Linked DNA regions of Homo sapiens. The protein of the gene in region 6 purifies or fractionates together with the protein of the main gene of each other region. This does not show direct contact. Each region holds a gene or a part of one and is shown on either strand. Other genes may lie near its edges.

Region 1 (3,500 bases), on a different chromosome or scaffold from region 6:
AGTGAGAATAAATAGCTTCGTTTAACAAGGCTGCAGAGGAAGGGGTTCAGGGTAAGTCATATTTTAGTTAAGGCCAACATGTGGAGAGAATATTCTGAAAAGGCTGAGATATTGGGGAGTTTGCCAGTCATGGAGCTGAAGTCATAGAGTGGAAGGATTTTAGAGGAAGGGAAGACAGAAGGGGATTATTGGGCCAGATTAAGGGATGTTTACAGAGTTAGGAAATTCAGAGTTCCAGGGATAATGGGTCAGAGGAGAGGGCTGGACATCTGGGGCGATTGAGGCAATGGGAGGGAAGATGGGATTCATTTTGATGGTCTCTAAATGAACTTGTACTAGGTCAATGTTTCTTGAATTAGGAAACCCACAAGACTACAGCCACATGCTCAGGGGACCAGAGTGTACTAATGAATTTTTAAATTTTGGATTGTAATTTTAATGATAATCTAAAACTTGATTTCAGTTCCCAGATTAGTTTATGTTAATTTGGAATTGTTACCATATAGTGCTATACATTTATATGAAATAATAATAAAAGTGATTTAAGGCCAGGCGTGGTGGCTCAAGACTGTAATCCCAGCACTTTGGAAGGCTGAGGTGGGAAGATCACTTGAGGCCAGGAGTTCAAGACCAGCCTGACCAACATAGTGAAACCCCATCTCAACTAAAAAATACAAAAAGTTACCTGCACGTGGTGGTGCATACTGGTAATCCCAGCTACTCCGGAGGCTGAGGCCTAAGAATCACTTGAACCCAGAGGCAGAGGTTTCATGAGCCAAGATGGTGCCACTGCACTCCAGCCTATGCAACAGAGGGAGACTCTGTCTCAAAAAAAAAAACAAAAAAGGCGAGGGGGAGTGATTTAAATCAATGAATACTAGTGTACCATGAAAATTTGAGGAAATTGGCTAGATATTATTTAAAATTCCTTCCAATTCTTATTCTACTTTCTTGCAGAGTACATTACTTTTTGGGTAATGTAGCCCTTATTAATTTAGAACTTTTACAGCATACTACATATGATACAAGTTCATTGTAGGAAAATTAGAAAATCCTGATTTTCTTTTTCTTTTTTTTTTTTTGAGACAGAGTCTCGCTCTGTCGCCTAGGTTCGAGTGCAGTGGTGTGATCTCGGCTCACTGCAGCCTCTGCCTCCTGGGTTCACACCATTCTCCTGCCTCAGCCTCCCAAGTTGCTGGGACTGCAGGTGCCCACGACCACGCCTGGTAATTTTTTTGTATTTTTAGTAGAGTTGGGGTTTCGCCATGTTAGCCAGGATGGTCTTGATATCCTGACCTCGTGATCCACCCGCCTCGGCCTCCCAAAGTGCTGGGATTACAGGCGTGAGCCACCATGCCTGGCAGAAAATCCTGATTTTCTTAAAAACTTTAATTACCTTCAAATCCTTCAGCTAGAAATAATCATTATTAACATAGTGATGTCCCCCTACATTTGTGTGTTTGTTTCTGTCTATGTGTGTGTGTGTGTGTGTGTGTGTACTTCAAGGAAGCAGGAAAAGTATTTTTTAATTGAAAACAGAGACATGCTGATCTATTATGAATGTTTTACTATGTCAGTAAGTATATTTCTACATTGTCATTCATAATAGCTGTATATTATTCTATTATATGGTTTACCATAATTAATTTAGCCAGTAGGGGACATGTAGGTTGTTTTTAGTTTTTCAGTTTGATGTAACACTGGCCAATAAACATCCTTCAATAATATACATTTTTATATTGTACAATTCCAGTTATTTTTTAATATATCTCATTACAAAAAATTTACTCAATTTGATCGTATTCCAGATATAATCTGGAGTAATTATCTTTTTTGTCAAAAACTATAGGTTTTTTTAGTAAAAACAAAAACACATATAATAAGTGTTCTGTGTTTTTGGCAATCCAGAGTTTTCCAAATTATTTTCTTTAGAGCCTGAAGGTTTCCTCCAGTGGAGCTTGTCCTGCTGTTTCTCTTTTATCTGTTTCCTTGCAAGGGGTCTTTTCTTTAAAAAAAAAAAAAAAAAAAGGATTTTACTATTTTTTAAAAATGATATAAACCACTGAGCTAATCCCTGGCTAAGCTGTGAAGTTAAGTTGCCTGACTAGTGGTAGGAATTAGGCCAGAACTTGTATTTCCTTACTCCTAAAAAGAAACTTGGGGTTGGGCATGGTGGCTCACACCTGTAATCCCAGCACTTTGAGAGGCTGAGGTGGGCAGATTAGATGAGGCCAGGAGTTCAAGACCAGCCTAGCCAACATGGCAAAACCTTGTTTCTACTAAAAATACAAAAATTACCCAGGCATGGTGGTGTGCACCTGTAATCCCAGCTACTTGAGAGGGTGAGGCACGAGAATCACTTGAGCCCAGGAGGCAGAGGTTGCAGTGAGCCAAGATCATGCCACTGCACTCCAGCCTTGGCAACAGAGTGAGACTCTGTCTCAAAAATAAAATAAAATAAAATAAAAATAAACAGAAACTTGGAATAAGTACATCCTCTGGACTTAAAACAAATTACTCTAATGCAGTATCTGAATTGCTTACTTTGAACATATTTACAATGTGTCCTTTATTTGTATGTTACCTTTTTCTTTATTTCCACTTCAACAATTGGAATTAAAACATTTTAAAAGACACTAAGCATCGGCTTAACCAGTAATTAACATTGATGAGTAGAGAAAAAATTTAAGACAGCTGCCAAGTTGACCACTTAAGTGAGGTATGATTTGCTAGTATTTGTCATCTGTGGGACTTTATAATTATAATAATAGCAGTGTAGTTACACTGTGATGGAAAGTTGACAGTTAACTTTTTCCACTTATCAAACTTTAGAACAATTCCGAAAGTTTCTAGTTTTTAGTTTCCAGGTAATTTATCATTCAATTGATTAAAAATCTATTTTGGGCCACAATTACGAACAATAATACAATTTTTACATATGAGTGACATTAACGCAGTGTTCCTTCTTTTTTAATTTCCAGGGAAAGACTACTATTATTCTAAGGTGTCTTGACAGGTAAGTGTTATGTTAACCTTTAAACTATATTTATGCTTATTCTAGTTGTATAGGGCAAGTTAGCTCTAAAAGACATAAGGAAGGGGAACGATTTTGAGACCCAAACAAAATATTTAATTCTTAGCAAATCCTTAGTATAACCTTTAAGAGCGCCTTTAAATATAAAACTAACAATAAGCCAAAAATTATATGAGACTAATACTGGATTTCCCTATTTGAGGGAGAAATGTTACCATAATTACCCAACCTACAATAGTATTTACCTTCTTTTTGGCTATGCTACTCTGATATTTAAATTATTTTTGTTCTACCTAATCTACAATTATTTGAACATTCATTGTAAGCTTTAGTTGCTCAGGGGTACATTTTTGAAGCACAGTGTTGGTCCTCAAACTGGATATTTTATCATTTATTTTATATATTTCCTAACGTATACTGTAGAAGCAGGCCATCAGATTAAGATTTAGCAGTATGATTGGTAGAT
Region 2 (2,938 bases), on a different chromosome or scaffold from region 6:
AGAATTGCCTGGGTGCGTGTTCAGAACAGGTTCCTGGATCTGAGCCCTTTTTAACTGAGGCCGACTCTTGGAGAGGGGCACCAGAATCTGCATTTGTAGTGTATACCACATCGTGGTTCAACTGAAATTGGAGAAATACTAACCTGAGATTTTGTTGAAGTTCACACACAGATCACAGCCCGCCCTCTGCAGGTGTCCCCTTTGGGCTCCTTTAGGAAGAGGGCTTCCATGAGAAGGTGACCCCATACCTTGCCCTCTTGGTCAATGGGATTGGGGCTCCACCTGGCTTGGAGATGGCCCTTTTAACCCTCACAGGAAGGGCCAGGGGAGGAAAAAAATTGCAAGAAAGCGACACCAAGAACGGAGCTGACTGAGGAACCAACTGGAGGGTCTTCACTCTCTCCTTCCCCAGTGTACAAAACCAGTTTTCTGCAACATTCAGGAGCCAAATGAGGAAAAAGAATCAAGAATCTGACTCACAGCCCATCTGATCTGTTCAAAGCTGTCTTTTCCACCTGCTGAAATTCATTAAATCACTGGAGGCATGCATAATGAATGGAGAATGAGTGAACTTCCAATGCAACTTGGATTCACAAACCCATTATCATAGCCAATATGCAGATTTTAAACAGCATTTCACATTTCATTTGACCATGTCTTCTTTTTCGCATCGCCTGCTGCAGAATTCCCTACTAGAATGTGAAACAACGAACAAACCACAGAACTTAGAGTGTGCTGGTTAGTCACATAACTTAGTAGCAGGATTGTGTATCCAGGCACAAAGGTGTCTTTGCTAATGTTCTCTTGCTACCTGCCCTGCTTCAAACGCTAAATGGTATGGGTCTTTCTTTGTTGCCAGCCATATTCTACAAATAAGACTTTTCAATATAGTTATGAGTAATATAATTTTATGTACATATAATGTTAGAATATTGTACAGAATCTTGGTTTCTACGATGCGCTTTTCTTGTTTCAAAAAGAGGAAAATGCTTGATTTTTGTTGATGATACTTTTGTTACTGTCCTTAATTTTCCATAGTTTGGTTTCTTAATTGTGCTCACTAAGCATCGATCTGTGCTGATGCCAAGCTATGGACTATGTACGCAAGACCGAGCAATAGACAGAGGTGCCTAGGGTCCAAACACACTGAACGCACGTGGACCGCCTGGATCAGGAGCCTCATCAGACCCTTCTCCATGCACATCCTTCCCAAACAGTCACAGATTCCATTGAAAGGAGCAGATTCTATCAGTTCTTCTGTGCAGACTTTAAGAGCTGAACGTTCTGGTTCTGGAAGCCATGTGACTGCGCAGAACAACCTAAGAAACCCTTTGTGTCCTGAGGGGTCGTTGACCTCTCCTTCCGGGTCGGAGCAGTCACTCTGAGGGCAAAGCGTGGTCCACTGTGTGTGATGTTTTCAGGATGCTAGGGTCAAAGAAAGAAACCAAGTGGTACATAAGCCCAGCTTTTCTGCTGGGCTAAGTGTAAGTGTGAGTAACATGGTCAAGCCCCTCTTTTTTGGGCTAATGTAAAGCCTTTCCTGCCTTGCATTAATGCTATCTCCCTGTGTACTGTTTCTCTTAAATGAGCAGATAGAAATCTGCAGTGTTGGCAGATAGGTGATGGAGAGGATGATAATTTTATCTTCTGGCCACAGAGCTGCAGCCCCAGTTGTCAGAGTCCTTAAATGAAACCCCCAAATCCATCCCTCCTTCCCTACCCCCACTGGAATATTCTAGAATAAGAGCACTGGATAAGTACACTTGAACACATTTTTCTAACCTTAGAAAATACCTACAAGGCCTGTTGTCTTGACCCATTACTCAATTGTCCCTGGCATATTATCTGATCTTCACGTTTCTTGGAAGCAGAATCATCAAGGCTTTCCTTTGTAACTGCCCTTTCCGTACACAGCAGGCATGAATAAATGCTGAGTAACAGACAAGTTACAGACAGGAGGGGAAAGAGGAGGAACCATACAACTGTTTTTGCAAAATGATGGCTGAGTCCAGATTATAGAGGTTGCCTTACCCTTAGAATGTTATTTAGACCAAGTTTAGCTTTTAGAGTCCAGGTCTGGTTAATTGCCAGGGTAGCAAAGAATCGCATGCACCAATGTAAACAGGAGTCAGAATGCATTATTAGTCAAAGATCGAATTTCACATTGTAGAGATGTATAGCTGTGATTAAGCTGCATATGTATGCTGGGAAACGGCTTGAGTGGATGGCTAATATAAAAGTTGTTGGCCATAATGCCACACCTCTCATCTGCTTGAAATATGGACCAGTATTCTAAAATATCAGCTACTGGGGTCTCATTCACTACAAGATAAATTCAAACTTCACAGAACTTTGCAGCAGTTCACCACCAGACGGGACTGTGTCTGCAAACTCTCTTGTCTTCACAGACGCCTAATAAAGCAAAACTCTGAATCTCATGTGGCCCAGATTTTTTTTCCCCCCATCCTGGGTTTGCAAACTGCATGATGGACACGTCAGTACTGATCTCCCTCTCTACCCCATCTCAGGTGGTGGAGAGAGAGTTTCAGTTTTTTCCAGGTGCTGTAAGTTTTCTTAAGTTATTCTAACAAGACTAGGCCCTTTGTTTGCTGGGAACCAAGGCCCCATCGATGGGCACAGAGCCCCTTTTCTCTGGAAGAAAGTGGTCTAGCCAGAGGGAGGGCAGGTAAGCAGAGTGACCACTGCCAATGCCACTGCACCCCAGTGTAAGTCATTAAAACATGCAGAAGGCCTGGCTGGGCTCTTGCCCCTGGGCATCCCAGCCGTCACGTGAAACTGGCTGTGTCCAGAGCCTACACCTGAGTCGCCCTCCACAGTTGGCTCTGAAAGCTTCCTGATGGCCCGAGGTATGTTCTAAATGGGGTGATAAAAGAGAGGTATAAATGGTGGTCGGCTCCACCAGCCTTCATTTGCAGTT
Region 3 (3,500 bases), on a different chromosome or scaffold from region 6:
TCAACGTAGAGATAAATATGTGTTTCAAGTAGTTCTGAGAGGTTTTTTGTTTTTTTAATTATTATTTTTTAAATTTTTATGTATTTATTTTTTGAGACAGAGTCTCACTCTGTCGCCCAGGCTGGAGTGCAGTGGCGCAATCTCGGCTCACTGCAAGCTCCACCTCCTGGGTTCACGCCATTCTCCTGCCTCAGCTTCCCGAGTAGCTGGGACTACAGGCGCCCACCACCATGCCCAGCTAATTTTTTTGTATTTTTTTGGTAGAGATGAGGTTTCACCGTGTTAGCCAGGATGGTCTCGATCTTCTGACCTCGTGATCCGCCCGCCTCGGCCTCCCAAAGTGCTGGGATTACAGGCATGACCCACAGCACCCGGCCTGTTTTTTTTATTTTTTAGTTCTGAGAGTTTTGACTATTTTAACTAACTTCTTGTTAGGTCAGTTTTGTTGTTGTTGTTGTTGTTGTTTGTTGTTGTTGTTGTTTTTGAAATAGAGTCTTACTTTGTCACCCAGGCTGGAATGCAGTGGTGTGTACATGGCTCACTGCACCCTTGACCTCCCAGGCTCATGCAGTCCTCCCACCTCAGCCTTGCAAGTAGCTGGGACTACAGGTGTGCACCACCACACCTGGCAAATTTTTGTATGTTTTGTAGACATAGGGTTTCACCATGTTGCTCAGGGCAGTCTCAAGTTCCTGAGCTCAAGCTATCACCTGCCTTGGCCTTCCAAAGTGCTGGGATTATAGGCATGAGCCACTGCACCCGGCCATTCAGGTCAGGTTAAATTGTCATTGTTTTAACCTATTAATGTGCCTAAGAGGGTTTGTTAGGAGTAGGTAGCTTTGACATTTTCTTTTTGGCTTGAGTTTGCATCATAGAGTTATCTTTTGGATAGAACAGAAACTCATAATAATGAATCCAGTGATAATAAAAACTCAGGTATGAAATGATTAACTCTTGCTGTTTTTAGCAGGCCCAAACTAGCCATTTTATTAACCTTACAACAACAAATTCCTGCATTTTATGAAACAGAATCTTGAGACCCTATTATTATGACATTATGGTGAGATTAAAGTGTACAGTTCACTGATGGTTGGTGTATTCAGAAGTGTGTAGCTTATATCACAGTCAATTTTAGAACATTTTCATCACCCCAAAAGGAAACTCTGTACACATTAGCAGTTACTCCCTGTTTCCCTACAAACTCCCCAGCTCTAGGCAATCACTAATCTACTTTCTGTCTCTTTAGATTTGCCTCTTTTAAACATTTCATATAAATGGGAACATACGGTATGTGATCCTTTGTGACTGGCTCCTTTTATTTAGTATAATGAACTAAGGTTCATTAGTTGTAGCATGTATCAGTACTTTATTCCTTATTGTTGCCAAATAATATTCCATTGTGTGGATATACCACATTTTATTTATCCACTTATCAATTTCTGGACATTTGGATTATTTCTACTTTTTAGCTACTATGAATAATACTGCTTTTGATTAATGTACAAGTTTTTGTGTGGACATATAGTTTCAATACTCGGGTATATATCTAGAAGTGGGACTGCTGGATTATATAGTAATTCTGTATTTAACTTTTGAGAAAGTGCCAGGATGTTTTCCAAAGCAGCTGCATCATTAATCTTTAAGATTAATATTGTCTATGAAATAATATGTCTTTTTTTATTTTTTATTTTTTGGAGACAAGAGTCTCGCACTGTCTCCCAGGCTGGAGTGCAGTGGCACCATCTCGGCTCACTGCAACCTCTGCCTCCCGGGTTTAAGCGATTCTCATGCCTCAGCTTCCTAAGTAGGTGGGATTACAAGCACGTGCCACCATGCCCAGCCAATTTTTCATATTTCAGTAGAGATGGGGTTTCATCATGTTGCCCACAGTGCTCTCGAACTCCTGAGCTCAGGCAATCCATCCATCTCGGCCTCCCAAAGTACTAGGATTACAGGCGTGAGCCATCACATCTGGCCATATGTATATATATGTGTGTGTGTGTGTGTGTATGTATATATGTGTGTGTGTGTATATATGTGTGTATTTTTTTTAATAGAGATGGGGTCTCATTCTGTCACCCAGGCTGGAATGCAGTGGCAAGATCATAGCACACTGTAACCTGGAACTCCTGGGCTCAAGCAATCCTCCCACCTCAGCCTCCCTGGTAGCTGGGACTATGGGCACATACCACCATGCCCAGCTAATATATTTATTTATTTTATTTTAAAATTTATTTAAATTTATTATTTATTTATGTATTTATTTTTATTTATTTATTTATTTTGAGACGGAGTCTCACTCTGCTGCCAAGGCTGGAGTGCAGTGGCACCATGTCGGCTCACTGCAACCTCTGTCTCCTGGGTTCAAGTAATTCTCCTGCCTCAGCCTCCTGAGTAGCTGGGATTACAGGCACCCACCACCATGCCCAGCTAGTTTTTATATTTTTAGTAGAGACAGGTTTTCACCATGTTGGCCAGTCTGGTCTCGAACTCCTGACCTCAGGTGATCCACCTGCCTCGGCCTCCCAAAGTGCTGGGATTACAGGCGTGAGCCACCACACCCGGTCTATTTATTTATTTATTTTTAAGACAGAGTCTCACTCTGTTGCCCAAGCTGGAGTGCAATGGTGTGATCTTGGCTCACTGCAACCTCCAACTCCCAGGTTCAAGTGATTCTCCTGCCTCAGCCTCCTGCGCCACCACACCTGGCTAATTTTTTTTATATTTTTTTAGTAGAGACAGGGTTTTACCATGTTGGTCAGGCTGGTCTCGAACTCCTGACCTCAGGTGATCAGCCTGCCTCAGCCTCCCAAAGCTCTGGGATTACAGGAATGAGCCACCATGCCCAGCCTATTTATTTATTTTTTAGGAGATGGGGTCTCACTATGTTACCCAGGCTTGTCTCGAACTCCATGAGTTCCAAGGATCCTCCCTCCTCGGCCTCCAAAAGTGCTGGGATTCAAGTCACAAGCCACCATGCCCTGTCAATATTTTTATTTTTAATCTTTATAGAGGTGGAGTCTCACTATGTTGCCCAGGCTTGTCTCAAACTCCTGGCCTCAAGGGAGCCTCCCATTTCAGCCTCCCAAAGTGCTGGGATTACAGGTGTGAGCCACTGTGCCCAGCTGTTTTTTTTTTTTTAAAGTTCTAGGGTGCATGTGCAGGATGTGCATGTTTGTTACATAGGTAAACATGTACCATGGTGGTTTGCTGCACCTATCAACCCATCACCTAAGTATTAAGCCCCACATGTATTAGCTCTTTTTCCTAATGCTGTCCCCCACTGCCCTCCCCCATTAGTGTATTCTTTATCCTTCAGAATTAGTGAAGGATTTTTACTGCTTTATAATGATTTCTTTTTTTTTTTGTTTGTTTTTCAGTCGGCTTTCTCCAGTTGAATGGTTTCCTTTTTGTTAAGTTGCTTTTTTCTAATCTCTTTAATGTGTTCCCTTTCTTTTTCCTCTTTCCCAACACCAAAGCAGAAAGGGACCAGAAACTTC
Region 4 (3,500 bases), on a different chromosome or scaffold from region 6:
GATCACTTGAGGTCAGTAGTTCAAGACCAGCCTGGCCAACATGGTGGAACTCCGTCTCTACTAATAATACAAAAATTAGCTGGGCATGGTGGTACACGCCTGTAATCCCAGCTACTCGGGAGGCTGAAGCACAAGAATCCCTTGAACCTGGGAGGCAGAGGTTGCAGTGAACTGAGATTGTGCCACTGAAGACCAGCCTGGATAACAGAATGAAAGAGACTCTGTCTCAAAAAAAAAAAAAAAAAAAAAAAGGCAACCAGTCCCAACTCAGCATAGAAAGAAGATGAATGACAGTAGTTCCCCCTTATCTACAGTTTCAGTAACACATGGTCAACTATGGTCTGAAAATAATAAATGGAAAATTCTGAAAATAAGCAATTCATAAGTTTTATTGTTTTAAATTTATTTTTATTTTTTTAAGAGACAGGGTCTCCATTCCGTTGCCCAAGCTGGAATGCAGTGGCATAATCACAGCTCACTTTAAACTCCAACTCTTGGGGTCAAGTGATCCTCCCACCTCAGCCTCCCAAGCAGCTAGGACTACAGGTGTGTACCACCGCACCCAACTAATATTTTTGGTTTTTGTGGAGACACAGTCTCACTACGTTGCCTGGGCTCATCTGAAACTCCTGACCTCAAGTGATCAGCTCGCCTTGGCCTCCCAAAGTGCTGGAATTACAGGTGTGAGCTACTGCAGCCAAGCCCCTAAGTTTTATATTGTATGCTGTTCTGAGTAGTATAATAAAATCTTGCCAGTCCTGCTCCATCCAGCCTAAGACCTGATTCATCCCTTTGTTTAGTACATCCGCGTTGTATATGTTACCCCATTACTATATACAGAACAACACAGTGTTTTTTCCTATATCCACTAGGGGTCATGGAATGTATCCCTCATGGATAAGGGGGCTACTATATTATAGTTGCCATTTCTTAATCAGTGTTACCTAGAGAACAACTGAGGCAAAACCAACTCCCTGCCTTGATAAACATCAGAATCTTTTGTAGAGGATGTCCTAAAGAAATGGTACTGAAAATTCCAGCAGTTGAATTTGGGATAGAGCTATAGATTTTGGGAAAATTACTGAAATAAGTCTAAATTGGTCCACCTTCTATGAAGGGCATTCTATCAACCTAGGATCATATTACAGAACAAAGTGGTTTAGATCGCAAAAATGGTGAGGCAAACTAGTTGGTTCCAATCCTGGCTCTGCCTTCTATTAGTCACGTGATCTTGGGCAAGTTAGTTAATACTTTTGTGACTCAGTTTTCTCTTCTGTAAAATGGGGATCACAATAGTACATACTTTTCAGGGTCATTTTAAGGATTAAATGAGCTCATATATGTAAAGTTCTCAGAAGAGTTTAACACTTAGTAAGTGCCCAATTAAGTTTAGCTATTAATTGTCACCATCTATTGAAATTACAAAATGCTTTTGTTTTTGTTTTTTTTGAGACAGGGTCTCATTCTGTTGCCCAGGCTGGGGTGCAGTGGTAGCATGATTTTGGCTCACTGCAACCTCCACCTCCCTGGTTAAAGCGGTTCTCCTGCCTGAGCTTCCCGAGTAGCTGGGATCACAGGCATCTGCCACCACGCCCGGCTAGTTTTTTTTTGTATTTTTAGTAGAGATGAGGTTTCATCATGTTGGCCAGGCTGGTTTCAAACTCCTGACCTCAAGTGATCCACGCACCTCCGCCTCCCAAAGTGCTGGGATTACAGATGTGAGCCACCACGCCCAGCACAAAATGCATATACACTGTAAACCGGTAATTCCATTTCTAGGAATGATTAGGTATAAGGTGAAATGACTTGCACAACTTTATTGACCACAGCATTATTTGTACTAGCAAAAAATAATCAATAACTTATATATTACCAATAGAGGACAGAAGAGTGATTAAAGTACAGCACACTCGTACAATGGAAAGAAAAACTAAGCAGCCATAATAAAGAATAAATTTTTTTTTTTGGGGGACAGGGTCTTGCTCTGTCACCCAGGCTGGAGTGCAGTGGTGTGATCGCAGCTCACTGCAGCCTTGTGGGCTAAATCGATACTCTCACCTCAGTCTTTCCAGTAGCTAGCTAGAACTTGAGTAGCTAGCTAGAACTACAGGCGCATACGATCACATCCAGCAAATTTTTAAAATCTTTTGCAGAGATGAGGTTTCCCTGTGTTGTCCTGGCTGGTCTCAAACTCCTGGGCTCAAGAGATCCTTCCGCCTTGGCCTCCCAAAGTGTTGGGATTACAGGCGTGAATCACCACGCCCAGCCTAAGAATCAGTTTTTCATGTACAGTTATAGCATAATCTCTAAAATATTAAAAAACACCTGGTACAGAAGAGTAAGTTTGACATGCTAATGTTAATTTTAAATTCCAATGGGGTGAGCAGAAGAGGAAGAATATACAAATGTATGTGCTCTCTAAAAGGAAAGAAAAAAATAGCACACAAAAGCTCCTAATGGGAAGACACTATGATGTATGCAATGCCCATCTCTGAATCCTGAAACTCTTGGTGAAATTGCCAAGTTTACTGACAACCAAAGTAACCCAAAAGTCAGATCAGTGCTGCAAAATGTCCTCTGCAAGGCAATATGGTGATTAACAAACAAATGAGGCCGGGCGCGGTGGCTCATGCCTGTAATCCCAGCACTTTGGGAGGCCAAGGTGGGTGGATCACCCGAGGTCAGGAGTTCAAGACCACCCTGGCCAACATGGTGAAATCCCATCTCTACTAAAAATACAAAAATTGGCTGGGCGTGGTGGCGCATGCCTTTAATTCCAGCTACTCGGGAGGCTGAGGCAGAATTGCTTGAACCTGGGAGGCGGAGGTTGCAGTGAGCCAAGATCGCACCATTGCACTCCAGCCTGGTGACAGAGTGAGATTCCGTCTCAAAAAGCAAACAAACAAACAAACAAATGAAAACTACTATTTCAGATTCCTTGCACTTCCTCTAAAAGTAGAGGATTGCTGTGAAAATATTACCACACTAGAGTATTATTTGCCATGTGTTTGAGATGTCAAACAATTCAAAAGCTAAAAAAAAAGTATGATTACAACAAAAGTAAAACTTTTTTTTCATTTTCCTTTAAATGCATGAAGGAAAGTTTCTACTTAAATCATCCATATTAATAAAAGTCATCATTTTCAGGGTAACTGTATAAACAGGAGTCAAATACACTGAAATTTACCACAAATTCCAATTTGGTTAAAATATGAGTTTATTCATCTCAAACGATAATTTTAAAATAAATTTTTAAATAATATTCACATTCTAACTTTTTTGATAACTGTATATTTAAGAACAGTGTAGTAAGTTTATAATCTACTTCTAGAATTACAAAATAGCACAATAAAATTGAGCACTGAGCAAAGCCAAATAAACACTGACCATACTATAAGATTAACAAGTAATAATCTTGTACTTGGAACACTGTTTATGTGATTGTGGCCAGGCTCCTTCTGCCATCACTGTGAAATATCACCTTACAGGCCCTGACTGAC
Region 5 (3,757 bases), on a different chromosome or scaffold from region 6:
GCTGAATCCATGGAAAATGCCTAAAAGTTCATGAACATTCGTTTCTAGAAGATGCCCATCTCAAAGTTTGGCCCAATTGGAAACTCACATATTAGTAGTAGTATGGAATGCCATTTGTATTCCTTTGTTTTTTTAAAAAAAAAGAAAATCATTTTTATTAAAGGACTGTGTCACTAACCAGGAACACTTGAATATACTGAGTTCATTGACATGCAGAAGTTTGGGCACAGCCTTTACTCTTTACTTCTTTCTTGTGTTTTAGATCCATCACTCGCGCCTACTACAGGAACTCAGTAGGTGGTCTTCTCTTATTTGACATTACCAACCGCAGGTCCTTCCAGAATGTCCATGAGTGGTTAGAAGAGACCAAAGTACACGTTCAGCCCTACCAAATTGTATTTGTTCTGGTGGGTCACAAGTGTGACCTGGATACACAGAGGCAAGTGACTCGCCACGAGGCCGAGAAACTGGCTGCTGCATACGGCATGAAGTACATTGAAACGTCAGCCCGAGATGCCATTAATGTGGAGAAAGCCTTCACAGACCTGACAAGAGACATATATGAGCTGGTTAAAAGGGGGGAGATTACAATCCAGGAGGGCTGGGAAGGGGTGAAGAGTGGATTTGTACCAAATGTGGTTCACTCTTCAGAAGAGGTTGTCAAATCAGAGAGGAGATGTTTGTGCTAGTCAGTTCTTTTATTTCCAAAACATGCTCTCCTACTTGAACTGAAAAGTAAGAGAAATAAATAGAATCTTTGTGTAACTGATGAGAACTCAACCTCCATTTGGATACCAAGTGAGCCTCCCTCTCAGGGGGACTCTGACAGACTCGTGTGCGGGTGGATGGGGGTGCCTGAGTGCTGTGACCAAGGGACTGAATTGCTGACATGGGCCAGGCCAGGCACTGTTTTGTGGCCCATGCTAGGCAGTGGCTGCTCCATGAGCCCTTTGTGGACCACATGTTAAAGGCCTGGGGTTTAGGAAGCTAAGTCCCAGGAAAACATACCTACAGACAGGACAACTGTTCCTTGGTATTTGAGCTCACTTATAGGCCATGAACATAAAGAAATACATAAAGGGGAAAAAAGTTTCACAATGGGGACAATTAGCATAACTAAACAAAGATTATGAGCTCTACTTATTCCGTGAGAATACCCTGCACCAAAGGTGTTTGCTGGGTTTGGTTAAAAGGTACCAATTAGCTTTTAACAGCTTTCTGTAAAATGAGGAACACAGACCAAAAGGTCTGGTGTTCAAGTAAAAATGATGTGACTATGGAAAGGAAGGCAATCGACACAGTTATTAGCACATTTCAGAAAATGAACACCCTTGTGATAGAATTACCAGCTGTATGAAACAAATTGTCCCATGCAAATTACCCTATAACTAGGAAAGAGACACTATAACCCAAATGCCATACCCCCTTTTTCCTTTGACCATGCCTGGGGTTTCAATGCCTTGGCACCTGCAATCTGGAAGTAAACAGTCTGCTTGCTTCTTCAGGCACGTGACAGTGACAACACAGTGACTGCCTCTGAAAAGAGCCCTGAGGCAAACACTCTCTCCTGCTGAACAGGAGGCACTGTAACCCTTACAAACAGCTTACAGTTACTTGGGCTACTTATTTGATCATCATAACAGGCCTACGAGGTTTTTGCCCCATTTTACAGAATAGTAAACTAAGAGCCATGAAAATCACTTGGCCAGGGTCAAGGACTCGTGACTCCTAGCTCTTTTCACTGCATCATACTGCTGTCAGATGAATAAATGATTATGAATTTGTTTACTTGGGAAGAGATATGACTATAAATAAATGTTCTCTACATGTTAGGATATGTTTTCCTTATTGATTACAACTCAGCTATAATCCTGAGGGAACATGGGAAGGAATCAAAGGTAAAGCCCATTCAGGCATTATTGACAAGAGGGCTTTAAACAAGTGAATAATTGCACAACTAAAAAGACATTAGAACTGTGTGGGCTATAAGTGTTCTTATCACTGAGACACAGTGGATTTTTATTGAAAGGAACCACGTACAGCAATGCGGAGTGGGATAGGGATAAAATACCCACCCCAAAATGACCTTGGCCACCTGTCTGCCATATACGTACACTGAGTTCCTGTCTACCCAAGAGAGTCAGCCCTTAATTCTCAGGTGAACAAACAGCTAACTGCATCAGCAAATTGGAATGGCTGGCTTGAAGTTTCCATTATTTTCTTGAAGAGAGGTGATGCTTTAAATTACTTTTTGGATTGTAGCCAGTTCAGCTAGGCAAAAGCCATACTTTTCACAATTAAAAAAAAAAACTATTCTGACTAGAGTCAGGTTTCTCATATCCATTGTGATAGGAAGGCCTAAGAATGGCAAATCGCTTTGAGATATAATATTGAACTTCAGTATGAATGTGACCGAATCTGAAACTTTGGGAATTTGCTTTAGCCAGAATAAAGAAACCAAATCATGAAAATTATGGAAGACTATTCTGCCACCTGTGCCCCAAGTTGGATGAGCAAACCACTTTGGATCAGTTCACAGCATTAACTACAAGTGAACTGATCATCTTCTCTATATTCATTTCACAAGAGCTGGCTTAGGTGGGGTAATTAAATTGCCACCTTCGTGGTTGTAAAAGACAAACAAAACATGGCAAATTTCATTAACACAAAATTTCATCAACTGCTATACTGAATTATGTTTAGAAGATTCTGAAAGCAAGATTATCCAGTGGGTAAATGAGAGTCGACTGGATTCTGTCAGTTCAAAAAAGGAAAGAAACAAAACTTCCCTACAATTTTCTTCACTAAAATTTATTATATGTACAGTATTCCCACTCCTGGCATTTTCTGGCAGGTTTAAAAATATTCAGCATAAATCCAGCAGAGGTGGCTGAGCTTAATTGCTTAAATAAGTTCTAGAAAATTTAAAAATCATTTTAGTAGAATTCAGTACCATTGTCACTGCAATAAGTGGGTTTTAGAAAATAAGTGTGAAAAGAATCAGGTGTTAATATAATACTAAGGATAAAGCTTTAGAAGCTATTTTACTACATAGGTAAAGAAAAGATAAACTAACTTGTAACAAAGACCACAACTGCATGTTGGATTAGATTGTCTCATATTTCAGAATAAAATGTACTGTATACTTTTCCTCACTTTGTTGTGCACTGTAATGAAATGTGAAAAATGCTTTATTTAGCTGTATGTGAATGAAAATATGCTTGTATTTAGTAAAATGATTGATTATGTGACTGTGAGATTCCAAGTGTGTGTTATAGCTATTTCCAGAATCTGTTACTACAGCGTAGCAACTACTACCAAGGATATCAATAAGATGTGACATATACCATACACAATCGTATTCACCATTACCTTAAAGCCAGAAAGAGAATATAATTTTTGAAAGTTATCTGACCATCATATCAAAAGTCCCTGGGACCTCAATACTTCCTGGTGAGCATATGCCACTTTGAGAAAAGTTGGTTCTGTCAAGCCTAAATCTTCATCATGATGATTTTTAATCAAGAGTCTTAATTCTGTTGCCAAGTAGTTGATTACAACTATTATGTTCCCTGGAAAGTCTTCTTTTTTCCAGGCTAAGTTGCCTCAGCTTTTTCAAATCCTACTACGGCATGCTTTTTATGCCAGGATCACTTACAGTGTGGCACCAACATAAGAACACAATAGTTCAGCACATTTCCCAGGATTGATAGTACACATGAGGGTGGGGGGAGGGTTAAAAAAAAAAGGAAAGATA
Region 6 (3,500 bases):
TCTCGCTCTGTCACCCAGGCTGGAGTACAGTGGCACAATTTTGGCTCACTGCAACCTCTGCTTCCTGGGTTCAAGCAATTCTCCTGCCTCAGTCTCCCAAGTAGCTGGGACTACAGGCATGTGCCATCACGCCTGGCTAATTTTTTGTATTTTTAGTAGAGACAGGGTTTCACCATGTTGGCCAGGCTGGCCTTGAACTCCTGACCTGAAGTGATCCACCTGCCTCAGCCTCCCAAAGTGCTGGGATTATAGGTGTGAGCCACTGTGCCTGGTGATTTATCTTTATTCCAGTATCATATATTGATCACTATAGCTATATAATAAACCTCAAAACCAGGTAGTGTTCATTGTATTCTTTTCTTGCAAAGTTGTTTTGGTGATTATATGTTCTTTATGCTTCCATATGAATTTTAGAATCACCTTGTCAATTTCTACAATTTCTGCTTGGATTTTGATTAAGCTTGCCTTGCATTTATAGATCAATATGAGAAGAGTTTTAAAAAATATACTTTTCCAACTCATGAACACAGCATAACATCTCCATTTATTTAGGTCTTAATTTCTGTCAGCTGTATCCAAATAGTGTTCAGTGTGTAAGGCTTTTCCATCTTTCGTCAGATTTACCTTTAAGTGTTGTATGTATGAAAAGTTTATTTCACCTTCAGTTTTGAAAGCTGTTTTCACTGGGTATAGAATTCTAGATTGATCTTTTTTTTGTCTTTTAGTAGTTTACAAATTTACTGTTCCTCTGTTGTTTTACTTAAATTGCTTCTGACAAAAAAATCTGCTGTGCTCCTCATTTCTGCTCCTCTTTATTTAGCTCCCCTGCTCCCCACTGGCTGCTTTTAAGACTTTGTGTTTATCATACTTATTTGGACCAATTTGATTATGATGTAACTTAGTGTCATTTTTTTTTCATGTATCTTGTGCTTGGAGTTCATTGAACTTATGGATTTGTAGGTTCATAGTTTTCATCATATTTGGAAAGTTGTGACTACTGTTTGTGCAAATATTTTTTCACCCCTCTCTTCTTCCTTTAGGGATTCTGTTTATATGTATATTAAACTGCTTGAGGTTGTCCCCAGCTCAATGAAACTCTAATGTTTCTTGTTATTAGTATTTTTCTCTGTTTCATTTTTAGATGTTTTCTATTGTTTTGTATATTTCAGTACTTCATTGCTGCCATAACAAATTACCACAAATTTAATGGTTTAAAACAACACATCTAGATTTATTATCATAAAATTCTGTATTTCAGAAGCCTGACATAAGTCTTGCTGAGCTGAAATTAAGGTGTTGGTAGGGCTGCATTCCTTCCCAGGAGCTTAGGCAAGAATCTGTTTTCTTGCTTTTTCCAGCTTCCAGAGGTTACCTGCATTCCTTGGTTTGTGGCCTCCTTCATCCATCTTCAGTCAGAAACAGCATGTTGATGGCCAGGTGTGGTGGCTCATGCCTGTAATCTCAGCACTTTGGGAGGCTGAGGCAGGAGGATCACTTGAGTTCAGGAGTTTGAGACCAGCCTGGGCAACATAGCGAGACCCTGTCTCTACAAAAAATAAAATAAAAAAAGTATCCAGGCATGGTGGCATGCATCTGTAGTTCCAGCTGCCTGTGATGGGCTGAGATGGGAGGATTGCTTGAGCCCAAGAGTTGATGTTGCAGTGAGCCACGACTGCGCCACTGTGCACTCCAGCCTAAGTGACAGAGGGAGACCCTGAGACCCCATCTCAAAAAAGAAAGAAACAGCATGTTGAGTCCTCCGCACCTCGCATCTCTCTGATCATCTCTTCTACTTCTTGTTTTTTCCACTTTTAAGAATTTATGTTATTAGATTGAGCTCACCTGGAAAATCCAAGATAATTGCCCCACCTGAAGGCCAGCTAATTAACAACATTATTTGCATCTTCAACCATTGTTCTCTTTTGCCATGTAAAATAACATATTCACAGGTTCTGGGGATAGGATGTAGACCTCTTTAAGAAGGGTATTATTCTGCATACCACAGTATGTCAAGTTTGCTAATCTTTTTTCTTCAGTGTCTAGTTTGTCAGTAATTCTATCTGGTGTATTTTTCATCTCAGAATTTTTATCTCTAGAAATTCAATTTGGGTCTTTTTATATTTTCCACGTCTCTACTTAACACCTGTTAGTAGTAATGACATACACTACTGAATGTATCCCCCCCAAAATTCATATGTTGAAGCCCTAATCCTCACTGTGATGGTATTTGGAGGTTGGGCCTTCAAGAAGTAATTAGGTTTAGATTAGGTTTTGATTAGGTCATGAGGGCTGGGAGTACCCATGACGGGGCTAATGTCCTTATAAGAAGAGGAAAGGAGACCATAGCTTTGTTCTTTCTCTGACATAATGAGGATATAGTGAGAAGGTGGCTATCTGCAAGCCAAGAAGAAAGCCTTTACCAGAAATTGAACCTGCCATTACCTTGATCTTGGATTTCCCAGCTCTGGAATTATGAGAAATAAAAATCTGTTGTTTAAGCCATCCAGTCAGGGTATTTTGTGTGGCAGCTGGAGGTAAGACAACACCTTTAACTATTTTTTGGACACATGGAATACAGTTGTAATGACTACTTTAATTTACTTTTCTGATAATACTAACATTTGTGTCAGCTCTGGGTTAGTTTCATTAGATTGAGTTCTCTTGTCATGATGAATTGTATTTTCCTGCTTCTTTGCTGGTAGTTTTTGATTGGGTGCCAGATGCTGTGAATTTTACCTTGTTGTGTGCATGGTAATTTTATATTTCTAAAAATATTCTTGAGCTTTGTTCTGGTACATAGTTAATTTACTTTAGAACAGTTTGATTGTTTTAGGGCTTATTCTTCAGATTTTCTAGGCAGAACCAGAGACACTTTAATCCAGGGCTCATTATTTCTCACTGCTGAGGCTGTACCCTTCTCAATACTCTACCTAATGCCTGTGAATTATAAGGTTTTCCAGCCTGGTTGATGGGAATAGACACTATTCTTGACCTTGTGGGTTCTTTCTCTGGCCTTGGGTAGTTTTCTAACACATATAATCTGATCAGCACTCCACTGAATACTTGAGGGAAACCCTTTGCAGATCTCTGGAGTTCTCTGTTTGTGCCACTCCTTTCTCTCTGGTACTCTGTCTATAAAAATTGAATTATCTTGGTATATTCTTTCTGGAAAAATTTTAAACTACTTAAGGGTTGGTAAGTTAAATTTTTCTGGGAATTTGTCCATTTGCCTTTGTATTTCAAATTAGTAGGCATAAAGCTGTTCATAATATTCTCATATCTTTTTACATCTGCTGAATCTGTTGTTAGGTTTCCTTTTTCATTCCTTATATATTTATGCCTCTTCTTTTATTTCTGGACCAATTCTCTTATCCATTTTTAACCCTGCTATTTCTTTAGAAACTCAAAATAGTTTGATTACTGCTATTGAAAATGCTAAACAGAAGATTAAATCCAGAGTTTAAATAGGGAGGAGAAATGCAATCTTAACAAAATGACTC
Region 7 (4,167 bases), on a different chromosome or scaffold from region 6:
TGTTTGTGTTTTTTGTCTTAGATTTTTTTCTTAATCAAGTTTTTCCAGAAGAGAGTAGCTTTAGGAAGAGAATAAACACATACTTTTAAGGTATTATCTCAGACTTTAGGCGCATTATGATCATATCAGTAGCACCCATGTACTGAATAAGTGAACTCAAAGAAAAGTTATGTTGGGCAACTACCTCAAAGTTTTGTTATCTCTGCTTGCAATTTTTGTTCAGTCATTGCACAAGTGCTTGAGGGCTTACTGCATGTGAGGCTCTGTAGACTAAGTATTAATGAACTTTCTTTTTTGTCCTTGCAGTAGCAGGTACAGCTTTGATCTCAGTTTTCTGCCAAATGAATGGTTCTGTGTTTTGTGCTCATTCGTTTACAGAGATCCCTCTGAACCACCTTGGAACCAGAAGGTGTGTGGTCTGAGAACGATAAATGGGCTGCTCTCTGCCTCTCTCACAGCAGTTCTGCCCCTCCTTGGGACCACTCGTTTTCTGCATTCCTGGCCCATCTTCTATATATCTCTGGTCCAGATTCCAGAGGAAACCTGTTTGACTTGAATAGATGCCATTGCCCTTATTGGGCCTTGCCTCAGGAGTTCCTCTGTGTATCTCTGGTCCAGATTCCGGAGGAAACCTGTTTGACTTGAGTAGATGCCATTGCCCTTATTGGGCCTTGCCTCAGGAGTTGCTGGTTAGCCTATGAAGGGGTTCCCTTTGGGTTGATGACATTGCTCCCATCCAGAAAGTGGCTACTTCTACCCTCCTACTCCCACCACTCTGCATGCAGGAGCTGTTATCATCAAAAGGGAATGTCCACTGTCTGCTCTGTACCAGAGAAGTGCTAGGCTTCATAAATATTGGTAATCGATACCTGAATGGGATGAAAATTGGCAGGTCCTGGGATGGATGGCCTGGTTCATCTGCATCAGAACTGGAAAAACAAAATCACACCAAATTGCAGACTTTTTTGGAAGAGCGTGTTAGACAAGGTTTGTGGATTGTTTGATTTTTACCAAGAAAGAAAGCTTTCTCCTAAGAGGGTAAGATTTCTACTTGAGTGAGCTCTAAGAGGAGTCCCAGTTTGCAAGAGATATTATTACAGTTCTCATCTGTGCGGACCAGAAAGTTTTCCAAATTCATGCATTTCAGTTATCTAACAGATATTTACTGAGCATTTACCATGTTCAGTAACCAGGGCCCTGGGAATATAATAGGAGAAGGCAGATGAGATCCTTGCCTTCACCAAGCTTATGTTTTTCTATTTTAAGTAAAATTTGCCATGACAAAATTTCTATCAGCGGAAGAGCCAGTAACTCTTATTGTAATAGGTTTTACCCAGTTTTAGAAAAGGAAAGTAGCTAAACTCTTGGTTCCTTGGTGTGTGTTTTTGTTTGTTCATTTCTAGTACTTGTCTATGTCTTTGGGGTAATTTTTGATTTAGAATTTTGTAGAAATTACTCGGCACAGTGTAGTTGAGGTGAATATAGGCAAGAAGGCTTAGGAAGCCTACAACAAAGGAATCTGACACCAACTTTTGAGATTTATTCAGTCCAGCCAAGAGAATATATTTATGGTCAAACTAGATCTTGGATTACAGCTCCAAAGACCCTTGGGCTGACAGAGCAGGTTCTCATTTCTCAGCTCTTTCCCTTATCACTTGCAGTGAACTCTGCCCCCAGGAGCAGAGTATCCAGTTCTGTGTCCAAGCACTCTATGAATCTTTACCCTTGTTGAAGAAATACTCAGAGACAGAAGCATTTAGAAAAGGAAAAGTTTACCTGCAAAGAGAGCAAGAGAATGACTGGCTTGCCTAATAAAAAACGTAAGTATTTGAAGGAAAAAATTAAAAACTGCCAAGGTTTCTGAGTTTGCATTAGACTGTTCACGGTGAAAAACAGTAACTGCCTCATGTAATTATTGTATTCATAAAGGTTATGGCAAATCTTCAGATGTAGTACAGGAAAAACCAAGGATAAAATTTCTTAGGGAGTCCAGGTTTATGGGAAACATTCAAGGTTTTATTGTTTTTTAGATCATCAACAGTTAGATGACCCTATCATTTTTGTTTTGTCTCAGGGTGCAACGTCTTTCTTTTCTGATGGTGATTGATATAGTTTGGCTGTGTCCCCACCCAAATCTCATCTTGAATTCCCATGTGTTGTTGGAGGGACCTGGTGGGAGGTAACTAAATCATGGGGGCAAGTCTTTCCCGTGCTGTTCTTGTGATAGTGAGGAAGTCTCACGAGATCTTTTGGTTATTATAAGAGGGAGTTTTCCTGCACAAGCCCTCATTTTGCCTGCTGCCATCTATATAAGATGTGATTTGCTGCTCCTTGCCTTCCGCCATGATTGTGAAGCCTCCCCAGCCATGTGGAACTGTAAGTCCAATAAACCTCTTTTGTAAATTACCTAATCTCAGGTCTGTCTTTATCAACAGCATGAAAACAGACTAATAGAATGATATAGGAAGTTCTTAGTCTTACTGAAGCAAGGGAAAGTGACATTTTGCTTCTACACCCTCCAGAATTCATAAGCTCCAGAAGGAAAGAGGACCCAAGGGAAAAACGTGATTGCAAAATGTGTTCTTGTCCTCTGCCCAAGTGATTAACCTTTGCTCCAGTGGTTTTCAAACCTGGCTGCTGTTAGAATCACCTGGCAGTGTTTAAAAATGACTGATGCCCAGCATTTTAACTTAAATACCAATTTGGTCTGGAGTGGAGCCTGAGTATGGATATTTAAAAAAGTAACTCCTCCTCCCCAATCCCCCGTAATTGTAATGTGCAGCCAAGATTGAGAACCACTGCTTTGATCAGTGCACAAAACTGGATCCTCTACTAATGACCGTGGTTTTTTCTTAGGCTTACTTACAGATTGATTAAGTTATGCCACTTTTGTAGATCCTTGAAATTCTGTGCACTTTCTTTCTTTCTTTTTTTTTTTTTTGAGACAGAGTCTCGCTCTATTGCCCAGGCTGGAGTGCAGTGGCGCTATCTCAGCTCACTGCAAACTTCACCTCCCGGGTTCACGCCATTCTCCTGAGTAGCTGGGACTACAGGCGCCCACCACTGTGCCCAGCTAATTTTTTGTATTTCTAGTAGAGACGGGGTTTCACCACGTTAGCCAGGATGGTCTTGATCTCTTGACCTCGTGATCCGCCCACCTCGGCCTCCCAAAGTGCTGAGATTACAGGCATGAGCCACCGCGCCTAGCCTGTGCACTTTCTTAAAGGAAAACTGGAGAGGAAGAGATCTCATGTTTTCTATTCACTCCACTGCTGCTTGGTCCAGTGCAGGAAATATTGCTGTTATTTGAAGTCCTTCCTAAAACAAAAGCTCAGATCTTTTGGAGGTTGCCCTTCTAGGCAGGTTTTCACCAGTCAATTTTGATTTGGGGGGCTTAACAGAGTAGGAATGATCTTGCAGGTTTATTACATCTGAATTTAAGACTACTCACCTAGGCTGGGCGTGGTGGCTCACACCTGTAATCTCAGTGCTTTGGGAGGCCAAGGCGGGAGGATACCTTGAGCCGAGGAGTTCAACACTGCAGTGAGCCATGATCACACCACTGCATGAGTGAGACTCCATCTCAAACAAAAAAAATAGACTACTCACTGTTTACATAGCTTTGTACCATATAAAAACTTGTTTGAATAAAATATTGATAACAATAGTGATGTTGGTTTAAGATTCATGTTTCAGTTGTTTCACTGATTTTTGAATTGATACATAATAGCTATGCATAATTATGGGTTCCCTGTGATAATTCGATACATGCATACAGTGTGTAATGAGCAAATCAGGGTAGTTGGGATATCCATCACCTCAAATGTTTATCATTTCTTTGTGTTGGGAACATTTCACATCTTCTCCTGTAGCTATTTTGAAATATACAATAAACTAGTGTTAACTGTAGTCACTCTACTGTGCTATCAAACACTAGAACTTATTCCTTCTGTCTAACTGTATTTTTGTATTTGCTAACCAACCTGCTGCCCTCTGCTCTGTCCCCTACCCTTCCCAGCCTCTGGTAATTATTATTCTACTCACTACCTCCATGAGATTAATTTTTTAGCTCCCACATCTAAGTGAGAACATGGAATATTTGTCTTTCTGTTAAGTGAAATAACTCCCTTAACATAGTGTCCTTCAGTTTCATCCGTGTTGCTGCAG

The links.
Region 1: the proteins of ART3 (region 6) and DYNC2LI1 purify together in Homo sapiens (affinity purification with mass spectrometry, with the first as the bait; one large-scale study listed by BioGRID). This does not show direct contact.
Region 2: the proteins of ART3 (region 6) and HSPA12A purify together in Homo sapiens (affinity purification with mass spectrometry, with the first as the bait; 2 studies listed by BioGRID). This does not show direct contact.
Region 3: the proteins of ART3 (region 6) and DDX19B purify together in Homo sapiens (affinity purification with mass spectrometry; 2 studies listed by BioGRID and IntAct, with this or other methods). This does not show direct contact.
Region 4: the proteins of ART3 (region 6) and VMP1 purify together in Homo sapiens (affinity purification with mass spectrometry; one large-scale study listed by BioGRID and IntAct). This does not show direct contact.
Region 5: the proteins of ART3 (region 6) and RAB39B purify together in Homo sapiens (affinity purification with mass spectrometry; 2 studies listed by BioGRID and IntAct, with this or other methods). This does not show direct contact.
Region 7: the proteins of ART3 (region 6) and SLC60A2 purify together in Homo sapiens (affinity purification with mass spectrometry; one large-scale study listed by BioGRID and IntAct). This does not show direct contact.

What each region holds. Positions count from the first base shown.
Region 1 is NC_000002.12:43,780,539-43,784,038, forward strand, and holds part of DYNC2LI1 (cytoplasmic dynein 2 light intermediate chain 1), read left to right. Parts: intron 1-2,981; coding exon 2,982-3,016; intron 3,017-3,500. UniProt on the Homo sapiens protein: Acts as one of several non-catalytic accessory components of the cytoplasmic dynein 2 complex (dynein-2 complex), a motor protein complex that drives the movement of cargos along microtubules within cilia and flagella in concert with the intraflagellar transport (IFT) system, facilitating the assembly of these organelles.
Region 2 is NC_000010.11:116,670,692-116,673,629, reverse strand, and holds the end of HSPA12A (heat shock 70 kDa protein 12A), read left to right. Parts: 3' UTR 1-2,438; downstream 2,439-2,938. UniProt on the Homo sapiens protein: Adapter protein for SORL1, but not SORT1. Delays SORL1 internalization and affects SORL1 subcellular localization.
Region 3 is NC_000016.10:70,305,686-70,309,185, forward strand, and holds part of DDX19B (ATP-dependent RNA helicase DDX19B), read left to right. Parts: intron 1-3,500. UniProt on the Homo sapiens protein: ATP-dependent RNA helicase involved in mRNA export from the nucleus.
Region 4 is NC_000017.11:59,731,654-59,735,153, reverse strand, and holds part of VMP1 (vacuole membrane protein 1), read right to left. Parts: intron 1-3,500. UniProt on the Homo sapiens protein: Phospholipid scramblase involved in lipid homeostasis and membrane dynamics processes. Has phospholipid scramblase activity toward cholesterol and phosphatidylserine, as well as phosphatidylethanolamine and phosphatidylcholine.
Region 5 is NC_000023.11:155,257,735-155,261,491, reverse strand, and holds the end of RAB39B (ras-related protein Rab-39B), read left to right. Parts: intron 1-262; coding exon 263-689; 3' UTR 690-3,257; downstream 3,258-3,757. UniProt on the Homo sapiens protein: The small GTPases Rab are key regulators of intracellular membrane trafficking, from the formation of transport vesicles to their fusion with membranes.
Region 6 is NC_000004.12:76,091,709-76,095,208, forward strand, and holds part of ART3 (ecto-ADP-ribosyltransferase 3 isoform a precursor), read left to right. Parts: intron 1-3,500.
Region 7 is NC_000006.12:111,276,339-111,280,505, forward strand, and holds the end of SLC60A2 (sodium-dependent glucose transporter 1), read left to right. Parts: 3' UTR 1-3,667; downstream 3,668-4,167. UniProt on the Homo sapiens protein: May function as a sodium-dependent glucose transporter. Potential channels for urea in the inner medulla of kidney.